Homo sapiens: one gene and its partners. The protein of the gene in region 1 interacts with the protein of each later gene in a biochemical or structural test. Each region holds a gene or a part of one and is shown on either strand. Other genes may lie near its edges.

Evidence for each region. Proteins that work in one complex are often made in the same cells at the same time.
Region 2: the proteins of AHSA1 (region 1) and AKT1 form a complex in vitro, tested with the Homo sapiens proteins (one study listed by BioGRID).
Region 3: the proteins of AHSA1 (region 1) and PTGES3 form a complex in vitro, tested with the Homo sapiens proteins (one study listed by BioGRID).
Region 4: the proteins of AHSA1 (region 1) and HSP90AA1 form a complex in vitro, tested with the Homo sapiens proteins (4 studies listed by BioGRID).

Annotation. Positions count from the first base shown.
Region 1 is NC_000014.9:77,461,093-77,464,592, forward strand, and holds part of AHSA1 (activator of 90 kDa heat shock protein ATPase homolog 1), read left to right. Parts: intron 1-1,067; coding exon 1,068-1,150; intron 1,151-1,549; coding exon 1,550-1,667; intron 1,668-3,500. UniProt on the Homo sapiens protein: Acts as a co-chaperone of HSP90AA1. Activates the ATPase activity of HSP90AA1 leading to increase in its chaperone activity.
Region 2 is NC_000014.9:104,775,249-104,778,748, forward strand, and holds part of AKT1 (RAC-alpha serine/threonine-protein kinase), read right to left. Parts: intron 1,523-3,500; coding exon 1,411-1,522; intron 552-1,410; coding exon 404-551; intron 1-403. UniProt on the Homo sapiens protein: AKT1 is one of 3 closely related serine/threonine-protein kinases (AKT1, AKT2 and AKT3) called the AKT kinase, and which regulate many processes including metabolism, proliferation, cell survival, growth and angiogenesis.
Region 3 is NC_000012.12:56,674,785-56,678,284, forward strand, and holds part of PTGES3 (prostaglandin E synthase 3), read right to left. Parts: intron 1-3,500. UniProt on the Homo sapiens protein: Cytosolic prostaglandin synthase that catalyzes the oxidoreduction of prostaglandin endoperoxide H2 (PGH2) to prostaglandin E2 (PGE2).
Region 4 is NC_000014.9:102,080,242-102,084,044, forward strand, and holds the end of HSP90AA1 (heat shock protein HSP 90-alpha), read right to left. Parts: intron 3,743-3,803; coding exon 3,552-3,742; intron 3,453-3,551; coding exon 3,305-3,452; intron 3,062-3,304; coding exon 2,793-3,061; intron 2,204-2,792; coding exon 1,870-2,203; intron 1,581-1,869; coding exon 1,471-1,580; 3' UTR 501-1,470; downstream 1-500. UniProt on the Homo sapiens protein: Molecular chaperone that promotes the maturation, structural maintenance and proper regulation of specific target proteins involved for instance in cell cycle control and signal transduction.

The sequences.
Region 1 (3,500 bases):
AGGTTGCAGTGAGCTGGGATCGCACCGTTGCACTCCAGCCTGGGCAACAGAGTGAGACTCCATCTCAAAAAAAATAAAAAATAGGTGAATACTACAATAAATATGGTGCTTTACCATGAAAAAGACCTGAAGTTTATTTGTGAAAGTGGGCATCAAAGCCAGGCGCGGCGGCTCACGCCTGTAATCTCAGCACTTTGGGAGACTGAGGCAGGTGGATCACGAGGTCAGGAATTGGAGACACACCTGGCCAACATGGTGAAACCCCATCTCTACTAAAAAATACAAAAATTAGCCGTGTGTAGTGGCACGCACCTGTAATCCCAGCTACTTGGGAGGCTGAAGCAGAAGAATTGCTTGAACCTGGGAGGTGGAGGTTGCAATGAGCCAAGATCATGCCACTGCAATCCAGCCTGAGCGACAGAGCAAGACTCTGTCTTGCGGGGGGAAAAGGTGGGCATCAGAAGGGTTGCAGCTTGAGGACTACTATGGAATGGTAGAAGGAGAGTCATCCACAATCAGAGGGAACATTACACTCGTTGAGGATGGGTATGGCTCACAACACACGCTGTAAACTGAGGTCATTGGCAGATAGGTGTTTGAGATGTGTGTGTTTTATGTATCCTGTGTAGCTGGGTGAGGCTTTCCGTATTCACCTAGTGTTTCTCATGGATGGAGTCACATATAAGCAAACATGAACTTCTCATTATAATCAAATTGTTCCCTAATATTTCAGTTGCACTGAAATAAATTGATATTTTCAAAACAAGTATTCTAGCAGAACTACTGGCTTTTGACCCAAGTTCTCATGGTATAACTCATGCTAGTACCAAATCTGTAGCTCTTTGTCTCACATTGTAATAACATAGTTGGTTTCCAGTAACCTGGTGAGGAAAGACATTTCTTTTGGGGGTGCGGGTGTTGATTGCATCTGGCATGTGGCATTCTCAGAATAAAGAGGATCAGTTCAGCCATCCAAAAGCAGCAGAAGTGAGGTAGCAGTTAGGACCCTGGAGCAGAGACCTTTCCTGCCAAGGAGTGGACTAATGACATTGCATTGGTTTTGACAGGTACTTCTAAGTCAGGAGTACAATACAAAGGACATGTGGAGATCCCCAATTTGTCTGATGAAAACAGCGTGGATGAAGTGGAGGTTTGTGCTTCATAACTCCTAATCCGAGTCCTCTATATCCTCTTATTCTCAGATGAGAAAAGTGACCTGTCATTCAGGATTCATAGCCCAGGCTTGGTCCAAGCATTCAGAACCCTAGCCTGCAGATAATTTTCTAGGCATATGGTGCCATTGGAAACTTCTAGAGCAATTTGCACTTCTTTAATTTCTTCACTTTAGCTAGTGACATGGGTTCTAACTAACATTAGCCACTTGACAGAGAGGACTCAAGAAGGAACACTAATGGGGATTGTACGAATACCGCAGTACTCATGCATTTCCTTTGGAAATGTCAGCAGTCACCTGATTGCTCAGCCCCCACATTCCATAATGAGGGTGCCCCTCAAGTTATTTACCACCTACTTCTCATCTTTCACCCAGATTAGTGTGAGCCTTGCCAAAGATGAGCCTGACACAAATCTCGTGGCCTTAATGAAGGAAGAAGGGGTGAAACTTCTAAGAGAAGCAATGGGAATTTACATCAGCACCCTCAAAACAGGTATCCCTTGAGTAGTTCTGTATGCCTTAAGGAGGTAGTTTCCACCTGTTAGACTCTGGTTAAGGGCCTGGACAGTCCTTTCTTTGGCAAATGGGTAAAGATTTGGGGGGAGGGGGCTTATTTCATCTTAAAGTCAGTCCATAAGCTCGGAGTAAGGGAAAGATCTGGAGCTGTGTTGCCTAATAATGATGGTTGAGCATTTTAGATGTGGCTAGACCAAACTGAAATGTACTGTGATGGCCTGGCGCGGTGGCTCACACTTGTAATCCCAGCACTGTTGGATGCTGAGGTGGGCTGATTGCCTGAGCTCAGGAATTTGAGACCAGCCTGGGCAACATGGCGAAACCCTGTCTCTACAAAAAATACAAAAATTAGCTGGATGCGGTGGCCCATGCCTGTAATCCCAGCTACTCGGGAGGCTGAGGTGGGAGAGTGGCTTGAGCCCAGGAGGCAGGGAGGTTGCATTGAGCTGAGATCATGCCACTGCACTCCAGCCTGGATGACCAAAAAACACAAGAGATGTGCTGTGAGTATAAATTACACTACGGGCTGGGCACAGTGGCTCACACCTATAATCCCAGCCCTTTGGGAAGCCGAGGTGGGCGGATCACCTGAGGTCGGGAGTTCGAGACCAGCCTGACCAATAGAGAAACCCCATCTCTACTAAAAATACAAAATTAGCCGGGCATGGTGGTGCATGCTTGTAATCCCAGCTACTCAAGAGGCTGAGGCAGGAGAATTGCTTGAACCCAGGAGGTAAAGGTTGCGGTGAGCCAAGAACGCGCCATTGCACTCCAGCCTGGGTGACAGAGGGAGACTCCATCTCAAAAAAAAAAAAAACAAAAAAAAAACTGTATTTGAGGCTCACATTATATTTCTAATGGACAGCGCTAATCTAAAGACTTGGCATCTCTGGACTCATTACTTGAATACAGTCTGGACTATCTTTGATATGCACTCTCCAGGGATATTTAGATGCTTAGAATAGAAGTCAGCTCAGCTTTCCCCTGGGATTCCATTTCTGCCAGTGTATTCTGATCTTGGTGTTGGAATATGTATAATAACCATCAAAGAAGGTGATGGAAGGTGATAGACACCTTTTTGGGGAGGACCAGTACACCAGTGCCATAACTAGTTGTGGCTTTTCTGCAGAGGTAAGGCAGAGTGGAGGAAAGGCACTAACCATGCATCCATAGGTGCTGGGTAGATTACCCACTCTTGAAGTCATCAAAGTGCCACGGCGTTCACGCCATCCTTCCATAGTAGACCTCACATGCACTTAATATGTTATAATGTTTCCAGTTGAGTCAGGATAAGCTTTTAAAAATAATCCCAGTGGCCAGGTGCAGTGGCTCACACCTGTAATCCCAGCACTTTTGGAGGCCGAGGCTAGTAGATCACAAGGTCAGGAGATCAAGACCATCCTGGCCAACATGGTGAAACCCCGTCTCTACTAAAAATACAAAAATTAGCTGGGCATGGTGGTGCACGCCTATAATCCGAGCTACTCAGGAGGCTGAGGCAGGAGAATAGCTTGAACCAGGGAGTCAGAGGTTGCAGTGAGTTGGAGTGCAGGCTGCACTCCAGCCTGGTGACAGAGCAAGACTCCATCTCAAAAAAAAAATAATAATAATCCCAGTGAACATACTGTATTCTATAGCATATACCCAGGTACCAGTCTGGCATAGGCCAAAAGTAAAGATGTAAAAATAGCCTCTTCCTTTTCTGGTCATAACCTCATTCTGTGGTAGGATGGCTGTGTTTGTCAAGCTGTAATGAAACTCCAGATCTCAGCTACTAAGAAGTAACTTCCATGAGCTGGAATTTTATCTT
Region 2 (3,500 bases), about 27 Mb from region 1:
GTGCCCAGCTGGTCGGCATGCGTGGGGTGGCATGAGGGGCCCCAGAGTCGGAGGCAGAGCCAGGAGAGGCGTCCACTTCACACCTGGTGGCCTACTGGGCTCAGCGGGGAGTCCAGGCTTACAGGGAACACATGGCTGCGGCCCCAGCTCAGAGCATGGGGTTCAGGGAAGGGTGGGGTAACATTGCCCAAGCCTGGCAGGGCTCAGCAACCCCAGTTTTCCTCTGACATGGGGAAGAGGACCCACCTGGGAAGCAGCTGCGCCCTACATGGAAAACCGGCCTAGGTGGAGATGCCGTGGAGTGCTGAGTGTCTCCTGGGCCGAGCTGGGACCCCATGACCCACCCAGCCCTCCACAGTCCAAGGCAGCCCCAGGCACAGGCAGAAGTGGGGACAGGCCTCACCACGCGGTGCTTGGGCTTGGCCAGGGACACCTCCATCTCTTCAGCCCCTGAGTTGTCACTGGGTGAGCCCGACCGGAAGTCCATCTCCTCCTCCTCCTGCTTCTTGAGGCCGTCAGCCACAGTCTGGATGGCGGTTGTCCACTCCTCCCTGCAGGAGGTCAGGTGAGGCTGCAGGCCTGTACCAGATCAGGAGCTCCACCCCACGTCTTTCACCCACCCGCCAGCCTCACAAGCGTGGTTCCACAGCTGTCGGGGTTCCCAGAGACAGCCCTGAGGAGGCCACCACTTGACCTGGTCTGGCCACATACACTCAGGGTCACGAAGCCCTCTTGGACGTGGGGGACACCCAGGCTTAGCCCCCCAGCAGGACTCTGTCCCCACAACCGGACTCCAACCCCCAGCAGGACTCCGCCCCCCAGCAGGACTCCGCCCCCCCCAAGCAGGACTCCGCCTCCCAAGCAGGACTCCGCCCCCCAAGGAGGACTGGCCCTCTCCACCGGGTTTTTCTTTTTTTGAGACGGAGTCTTGCTCTATCGCCCTGGCTGGAGTGCAGTGGTAAAATCTCGGCTCCTGCAGCCTCTGCCTCTCGGGTTCAAGCGATTCTTGTGCCTCAGCCTCCCAAGTAGCCGGGATTACAGGTGTGCACCACCACACCCAGCTAAGTTTTATATTTTTAGTAGAGACGGGGGTTTCACCATGTTGGCAGGCTAGTCTCAAACTCCTGGTCTCAAGTGATCTGCGCACCTCGGCCTCCCAAAGTGCCGAGATTATAGACGTGAGCCACTGCACCCGGTCCCTAGCCAGTTTTTATCTCCAGCCTCAGTTTCCCCACCCAAACCCCACAGGCAGGACTGGGCCAGTTTCCAAACTGGGCTCTGAGGAGGGCCTGGGAGCACTGGGGAGTGAGGATGGCTACAGGCAGAGGTGCCAGCACCCCGCCATCCCCGTGTCCCTCCTAAGCGCTGGGGCTGCCCAAGTGCCTGGCCTGGCCGCCACAGCCCACGTACCGCTCCTCAGGAGTCTCCACATGGAAGGTGCGTTCGATGACAGTGGTCCACTGCAGGCAGCGGATGATGAAGGTGTTGGGCCGGGGCCGCTCCGTCTTCATCAGCTGGCACTCTGCGGGCAGGCAGAGCCTCTGTCTGCGTGCATCCCCCTGCCCCTCCCAGGGCCCTCACCACAGCCCCCGCTGCACCAGCCAGCTCCCCTTGCATACCACCCACCAGGTCCTGGGAAGCCCCATCTCTTCCTCTCTCCAAGCCTCAGTTTCTCGCCTCACAGAGTGGGGCTAGGACCCCTGTTCCAGCTCAGACACTCTACTCCAGGCTGAGGCAGCCACACAGGGCATCTGGCCCGGCGTCAGGTCAAACCCCCACCATCGTCCACTCCTACAGTCCTTCCTTCAGTCTCTGAGCCCCGCCGTGCGCCAGGCCTCAGAGGATGAGGGGTATGGAGATCCCACAGAGGGGCTGGCATGAGGGGGGCACCCCAGAAACCTGCTTGTCCCACCTAGTGTAGAAATGTCCTGCTTTTTTCCCAACCTCACCCTGAGTACCTGGGAAATACAGCCACCTGGAGCACACCCACACCTGGGGCACACCCACACCTGGGGCACAGGCACACCTGGGGCACAGCCACACCTGGGGCACAGGCACACCTGGGGCACAGCCACACCTGGGGCACACATACATCTGGGGCACACACACACTGGAGGCAAAGCCACACCTGGGGCACACGCACACCTGAGGCACACACCTGGGGCACACGCACACCTGGGACACAGCCACACTGGAATACACAGACATCTAGAACACATCTAGACACCTAGCCACATCTGGGGCACACGAACACCTGGGGCACACGCACACCTGGGGCACAGCCACACCTGGGGCACAAGCACACCTGGGGAACACATACCTGGGGCACAGCCACACCTACAGCACGTACACCCTGAGGGCTGTGGGAACGTGCGGGGCCCTGAGAGGTGTGAGTGAGTGGAGTGTGTAGCCGCTGGGGCTCCGTGGCAGGCTCTGGCCCAGCCTGTGCAAAGCAGGAGGAGGCTGAGGGGCCAGTGGGGGGCCTCTGACATTCCAGCATCGAGGCCCTGGCAACCACAAGGGGGCCTGGCCAGGCAGCAAGGAAGCTGTCTTCCAGGCCTGGGGGCCAGGAGGGGGCTCGGGACCAGCCTGGTGGGGAGGGTGGCCTGTGTCAACACAGGCCAGAGAAGTGGAAACCGGTGTGAAGCCCCGGCACACCCACCTCCCACTCGCTCCTGGATGGTCCGATCTGCCCCAGTATGCAATCCCCAGGGCCAGAGTCTCGAGCCCACTGCCCCGGAACCGTTCCCCGGAGAAAAGCCCCGGACAGAGGCCCAGCACAGCCCCTGGCCCCTGCCCAGCTCTGCTCCTTGGCCAGGCGCTCCAGGCCACTCACCTATGGCCTAATCTGAAGGCCCCAGCCTTGCCAGCTGCTCAGGCAACACCTCCAGCTGGTACCCACCCGTGTGCCTCTCCAGAGAGCTCCCCACCTCGTTCCTTCCCAATGCCTCGGCCTGGCGAGCACACCCACAGCACCCACCCCCAGCAAGGCCCTGTCCCAGGTGCCACCAGGCACGCTGCTGGCACCCAGCCTCTCCCTGATCCCTGAAGCCCCCAGCCCCAACCGAGGAGACACTGGGGAGGGTGTGGGACAAGTCACAGTGAGTCTCCTGCATGGTTACGAGGCTGTCAGGAGACAGGGGTGTCTGCCTTCCTGGTCTCCCCTCACCCCTGGGGTGCCCTACTCTATCAGGCTGCCCTGCTACTGCTGGCTTGAGGCTGGAAGAGCCAGGGAAGGAGACCTCGGCTTACAGGAACCAGGTCCTGGTAAACCCCACCCCAACCCCAGCCCCTCAGCCTGGGGCTTTGCAGGGCAAGGCCTCTGCCCCTCCCAACTAGAAGCTTCAGGGCACGGTTTGCTGGCCACAGACCACCTAGCAGCCAGGGTGCCAGACTGACCCCACCTCCCCTTATACGTGCAGGCACCAAGGGTGGGAGTCCTTCCCTGCCCAGCCTGGGGACGGATTCCCTGCATTTAACCTCCTCCCAGACCCTGGACC
Region 3 (3,500 bases), on another chromosome or scaffold:
CACCGCACCCCAGCCTGGGCAACAGAGCAAGACTCCATCTCAAAAAAAAAAAAAAAAAAAAAAAAAAAAATTCGCCAGGCGTGGTGGTGCATGCCTGTAATCTCAGCTACTCAGGAGGCTGAGTCAGGAGAATCGCTTGAACCTGGGAAGTGGAGGTTACGGTGAGCCGAGATCAGGCCATTGCACTCCAGCCTGGGCAACAAGAGTGAAACTCGGTCTCAAAAAAAAAAAAAAAAAAAAAAAGTGCTGGTTCACACCTGTAATCCCAGCACTTTGGGAGGCAGAGGCAGGCGGATCACGAGGTCAGGAGTTCGAGACCAGCCTGGCCAATATAGTAAAACCCCGTCTCTACTAAAATTGCAAAAATTAGCTGGGCGTGGTGGCACGTACCTGTAGTCCCAGCTATTTGGGAGACTGAGCCAGGCCAATCAGTTGAACCCAGGAGGTAGAGGTTGCAGCGAGCCAAGATCACGCCACTGCACTCTAGTCTGGGTGACAGAGCAAGACTCTGTCTCAAAAAAGAAAAAGAAAAAGAAAAAGAAAAAAAGCCTTAGCAAGCTATATGATCATGTCCCAGATAAAACAAATTTAAATTATCAAAACCTGTGGTTAGGCCATGAACCAAAAATGATTCCTACATTTTTTAAATGTATATTTTTAAAAAAACACAGGAGGCGGAAGTTGCAGTGAGCCAAGATCACACTACTGCACTCTAGCCTAGGCAACAGAATGAGACCAAAAAAAAAAAAAAAAAAAATGTGAATGAGATAAGAGATATTTGTGGCCTGCAAAGCTGAATATTTACTGGCTGACCCTTTATACAAGTTGGCTAACACATTAAAACTACAAACAGGGCCGAGTGCGGTGGCTCACGCCTGTAATCTCCAGCACTTTGGGAGGCTGAGATGGGTGCATCACCTAAGGTCAGGAGTTCAGAGACCAGCCTGGCAAACATTATGAAACCCCATCTCTACTAAAAATACAAAAAATTAGCTGGGTGTGGTGATGGGCACCTGTAATCCCAGCTACTCAGGATGCTGCAGCAGGAGAATCGCTTGAAATAAGGAGGTGGAGGTTGCAGTGAGCCCAGACCACGCCATTGCACTCCAGCCTGGACAACAGCGTGAAACTCCGTCTCAAAACACAACACAAAAACTGCAGACCAGGCGCAGTGACTCAAGCCCATGATCCCAGCACTTTGTGAGGCCAAGGCTGATGGATCACCTGGGGCTGGGAGTTTGAGACCAGTCTGACCAACGTGGAGAAACCCCGTCTCTACTAAAAATACAAAATTAGCCAGGCGAGGTGGCGTATGCCTGTAATACCAGCTATTTGGGAGGCTGGGAGGGGGAGGGGGAGGGGGAGGTGGAGGTGGAGGTTGCGGTAAGCCGAGATCACGCCACTGCACTACAGCCTGGGCAACAGAGAGAGGCTGTGTCTCCCCCCCCAAAAAAAAAAAAAAAGCCAAAATAGGATTGGAACCCAGCATTTCTGACAGAAGGCTTATTTTTTTTCACTTCACAAAAAGGGACAATAATTTCTCCAGCGGTCCTTTTATTGCAAAGTAACTAACCATGTCTCTGTACTTCCAGTTTGTTTTATTATATAATCTAAACTAGCTTCTGCATACTTGACAACATGATAATGGAGTCCTGAGAGTCTAAAATTTGTTATGGAGGCAGTGAGAGAGTGATATTTGACCTTGAGTCTTTCTTGAACAAAGAAAAATTCTTTTATCTCCTGGGGATGTTAAAAGAAGAATGCTTCAGGGTCTAAAACCAAAGCAAGAAAGTAATTTTTTTAAAAAAAGAGTGCTCAAAAGACGGAATGTGGAAAGCCACAAGAGTTGCTTGATAGAAAAGTGCTAAGTGGGTATGCGTGGTGGTTCATGCCTATAATCCCAGCACTTTGGGAGGCCAAGGCAGGTAAATCACTTGAAGTCAGCCTGGACAACATGGTGAAACCCCATCGCTACTAAAAATACAAAAATTAGACAGGCATGGTGGCGCGCTCCTATAGTCCCAGCTACTTGGGAGGCTGAAGCACAAGAATCCTTGAACCCGGTGGTGGAGGTTGCAGTGAGCTGAGATCGTGCCACTGCACTGCAGCCTGGGTGAGAGAGTGAGATTCCGACTCAAAAAAAAAAAAAAAAAAAAAAAAAATAGTGCTGGCTAAGTGCGGTGGCTTATGGCAGTAATCTCAGCACTTTGGGAGGCTGAGGTGAGCAGGTCACCTGATGTCAGGAGTTCAAGACCAGCCTGGCCAACCACCGTGGTGAAATCCCGTCTCTACTAAAAATGTAAAAATTAGCTGGGCATGGTGGTGCACACCTGTGATCCCAGCTACTAGGATGGCTGAGGCGGGAGAATTGCTTGAACATGAAAGGCAGAGGTTGCAGTAAGCCAGATAGCGCCACTGCACTCTAGCCTGGGCGACAGAGTGAGACTCCTTCTCCGCACCACCCAAAAAAAAAAAAAAAAGTGCTACATTTTCCATAAAACATTACCTTGAACAGCTTTCACCTTTGTATCTTAGAGTGGAAACTACCACATAAAATAACTCGCTAGGACAGAGGTTCACAAGCCTTCCTGGTATATAGTGCCCTTGGTGTCTGAGGAGTTTTGTTGTGCTCTTAAGCCAAAAGGAGTAACTAGCAGTTGCTTTGATGACATAGCTGTATCCAAGCAACATAACTATATTGTCTTAGCAGCCTAGTAGCTATTGGAAAAACGAATTTACATTATTGGAAAGAAAAATATATATAGTTTCTTATATAACCATACCTATCAATGGAATGTGTATGGCTTTTGGATACTATATAACTTCTCAAACTTTGAAATGACTTCTATCATCTCACTCCTTGTTCCCCATTATTATTATTATTTTTTTTTGGTGGGGTGGGTACCTGTGTTTTTTTGAGTTATAGCAACCACCAGAAATTCAGTTTTTAGAAGATGAAACTTAATGGAGGGGTTTGCAGTACAATCTCATATTGAAACTGAACAACCTGAAACTAATAGTTTGCTTAGTGTCTTGGCTTATGTTGAGTATCACTGAATTACTCTGAAATTTAAAATATCCCAAGGTAGTTGTGAGTTCCTCCATGGGGCCCTGATACATCTTGGCACATGATTTGGTAGCCACAGGCCACAGGACTAGCAGGTTTATTCAGAAAGTTTTATAGTACTACAGCTGATTACAGAAGATCTCAAATATCTTACGGTTTCCCTGAGCAATGAGTATGTGGGAGACAGCTTGGTGTCAGACATTTATAGGCAAGGTGTTTGATACCTAAGAAGGAAAAACCATTTATGAACTCCAGGAACTACTTTTTTCCTTTCCATAGCAGAACTTTGATGTCTCATTCCTCACATATTACAAATAGGTATTTTTAATTTATTTATTATTTTTGAGATGGAGTCTGGCTCTGTCGCCCAGGTTGGAGTGCAGTGGCGTGATCTCGGCTCACAGCAGCTTCTGCCTCCTGGGTTCAAGCAGTT
Region 4 (3,803 bases), about 25 Mb from region 1:
TCCTCCTGTATATTATCGAAGGGGATTAAGAACTTTTCAGAGAATTTAAAGGACTAAACGTGATTGCCATTTACCAAGCATTCAATACCTGCTTAGCACGAGACTGAGACAAGGTCTCTCCCTGCCTGTGCACTGCCCCCTTAGACACTGTCACATATCCAAGTCCCAGGCATTTCCTATCATTTTTATATATGGCGTTAGGCTCAGAATGCAAATCCTATATGCTATCTAACCAAGTTTTGTCTCTAGAACCACCAAATTTCAGAAGTGAAGACTTTTATTTAGCCATTACCACCCCCAGTCCCCAGAGGGACTCTTACCTATTGGGCTGATTTTTTCATCTTTTTTTTGAGATGGAGTTTCGCTCTTGCTGCTCAGGCTGCAGCGCAATGGTGCAATCCCAGCCCACCGCAACCTCCGCCTCCCAGGTTCAAGCGATTCTCCTGCCTCAGCCAGGATGGCTTTAAGTAGATTTGTAAAGAACTTTGAGACACTGTAAGGCCAAGGAATTAAGTGACTGTATTTAACACAGAAGGTATTCCATGAATAACATCAAAACAACGTGGACACTAAGAGAACACATGTAACTCATGGACGCAGGGGATGCATGTTGTCTGCATTCCTGTTTTCTGTGCCTACGTGTGCTCCACCCCACACCTGCTGAGTACATGCTGGGAAGACCATGTCAACCCTTGGAGCAGCTAGTGTTTAACCATCTCCTGCTAGCGCCTCATGTTTTACATTTTGGCACTAACTGTCATCCAGATACTCCCCTTTCCCCCTAAATAAGACACTGTCACACAATATCTTTTAACTCATCTGTATTTGTTACAACTTTAAGCAGAATGTGACTCGAGCACTACATTTCCATCCACAAGACTGGGTCTGAGTTATTTTTGAACAGCTTTACGATATGCTTAGGTAGGCTTTTAACTTTGCTCCTCCAAACAATACTTTTCTTTGGAAAACAAGCCCTGTGGAGAGATCCTTCCATCAAGTTGCTTCAGTTTAACCTATTTCTAGAGGACTAGTACATGCAGAATTGTCAACTACAGGGAATGAAAAGTTCAAAAAGTAGATCCTACAAGATGTAACGAATACTTTTCTAAACATCAAGATACAGCTCAGAACACTTCAATAACAAGATTTGGTCTACTTAGGCATCCGGCTTGACAGCTAAACACTTTAGACCACAAAGTTAACATCATGTTACATACGTCTTACAGTGCACGTTACCCCAATCTGTGAAAATAAACCAACATGAAACTCAAAAAGCATTACTAGCTCTGCTTTAGTGCCTAAGGTATCACAGCATCACTTAGTAGACAGAAATCTTATCTTCCCCTTAAAGTAGTTGTCATGCCATACAGACTTTTTAATATTAACAAAAATAAAGAAAAACATCCTTGAAAATATATTATCAGAGGAATTGTAGAGTACTGAACAGGTAAGTCATCCCTCAGCCAGAGATTAGTCTACTTCTTCCATGCGTGATGTGTCGTCATCTCCTTCAAGGGGTGGCATTTCTTCAGTTACAGCAGCACTGGTATCATCAGCAGTAGGGTCATCTTCATCAATACCTGTTTCCAAAATAAAATCCTCATATTACAAAGATTTCTTAAAGCCAGCTATTAGGGTAATACTCTTGGTTTCTATCTGCTTTCAAGACAGTATTACAGGACATATGAGTCTCAATTTCATTTCTTTGCTCTTGTAAGACCTTACTTATCCCTAAAAAAAACATACTTTAATACCTCCAAGCAGCAAGCAGGACAAGGTGCTCCAAGTTTGGATAACTGAAAGTTCACCATTTTCTTCAATGTCACGTGTGTTTATTTTCTTTTTAACATTACATAGTATAAGGCTTACCCAGACCAAGTTTGATCATCCTGTAGATCCTGTTAGCATGTGTCTGGGGATCTTCCAGACTGAAGCCAGAAGACAGGAGCGCAGTTTCATAAAGCAAGATGACCAGATCCTTCACAGACTTGTCGTTCTTATCAGCCTCTGCCTTTTGCCTTAAGGTCTCAATAATGGAATGGTCAGGGTTTATCTCCAGGTGTTTCTTTGCTGCCATGTAACCCATTGTTGAGTTGTCTCTTAGGGCTTGAGCTTTCATGATTCTCTCCATGTTTGCTGTCCAGCCATATGTGCTTGTGACAATACAGCATGGAGATGTCACCAATCGGTTTGACACAACCACCTGTAATCAAAAAGTGATGACTAGGAACCTAGAAAGATTAATTCCTAAACTTTCATTGTGAAATGAAATCTGTAGAACCCAAATTTCAATAGATCCAAAATACTATCTACTGTCAAATACAACTTAAATGTCGCATTAGGTATCCAAAGAGCACAGGTTATAATTTCATGTTTTACATGCACAATTTTTTTTTTGAGATAGAGTCTCGCTCCATCACCCAGGCTGGAGTGCAGTGGTGCGATCTTGGCTCACTGCAACCTCCGCCTCCTGGGTTCAGGCGATTCTCCTGCCTCAGCCTCCCAAGTGGCTAGGATTACAGGCCGTGCCACCACGCCTGGTTTATTTTTTTCTATTTTTAGTAGAGACTGAGTTTCACCGTGTTAGCCAGGATGGTCTCGATCTCCTGACCTTGTGATCCGCTGCCTCAGCCTCCCAAAGTGCTGGGATTGCAGGCGTGAGCCACCGCGCCCAGCCACACACAACATAGTTTTCTGTTTTAAGTTGAAAACATGCGAAAATGGGCTATGTATGACTAAGCTTGAAAGCACCTTAGAAGTATCAATGATCAGGAAATGCTGTATTCACATACCTTTTCAACTTTTTTCTCCAATATGTCTTTCATGATTTTGCAGAGGTTCTCAAACTTTGTTTTTTTCTCTTCCTGCTTCTTTTTCTCTTCTTCATCCTCTGGAAGTTCCAGGCCTTCTTTGGTGACTGACACTAAAGTCTTCCCCTCAAATTCCTTCAGCTGTTGGACACAGTACTCATCAATGGGCTCAATCATATAGATCACTTCTAAGCCATGTTTCCGAAGACGTTCCACAAAGGCTGAGTTAGCTACCTGGTCCTTGGTCTCACCTGAGGTATTACAAAGTTACTTTTAGACCTTTTAACAGTTAAGAATGGTTTCATCTAGCTCTGACTTTTCTTGCTAGCCAGATACCTAGGCAGAACCTAAGACAGAAAATGACCTAGTTCATGTTAATTATCTTGCCTAGATCAATACCAGTTGTAACAGTGCTACCTGAGTAGAAAACACACCCACAGAGCCTACAAGATTGTAAGAACGACGTGTATGACTGTAACATAGTGTTCTCTTACCTGTGATATAATAGATATGTTTCTGGTTCTCCTTCATTCTGGTGCAGTAGTCCTTGAGAGAAACCATCTCATCACCAGAGGCAGATGTGTAGTACCTTAACAGCTCTGAAAGCTTCTTCCGATTTTGAGAGTCTTCGTGTATTCCAAGCTGAAACAAAGTATGTTCTTTACAAAGACTTTCTGAATTAAAAAAAAAAAAAAAAAACTAAAGAGGCCAATTGGAAAACTAATGGTTATTTACACCAACCTTTATGTTTTTAGAGAACTGCTCATAGAATTTCTTGTAGTTCTCTTTATCTTCCGCCAGTTCAGTAAAGAGTTCTAAGCATTTTTTGACCAAATTCTTCCTGATAACTTTCAAAATTTTGCTTTGTTGCAACATCTCACGGGATATGTTTAGAGGGAGATCCTCCGAGTCTACCACCCCTCTAATGAAGTCTGAAAAAAATATAAACCAAATGCACTGAGTCATTCCAAGGACAAAACTGGTACTATGTAA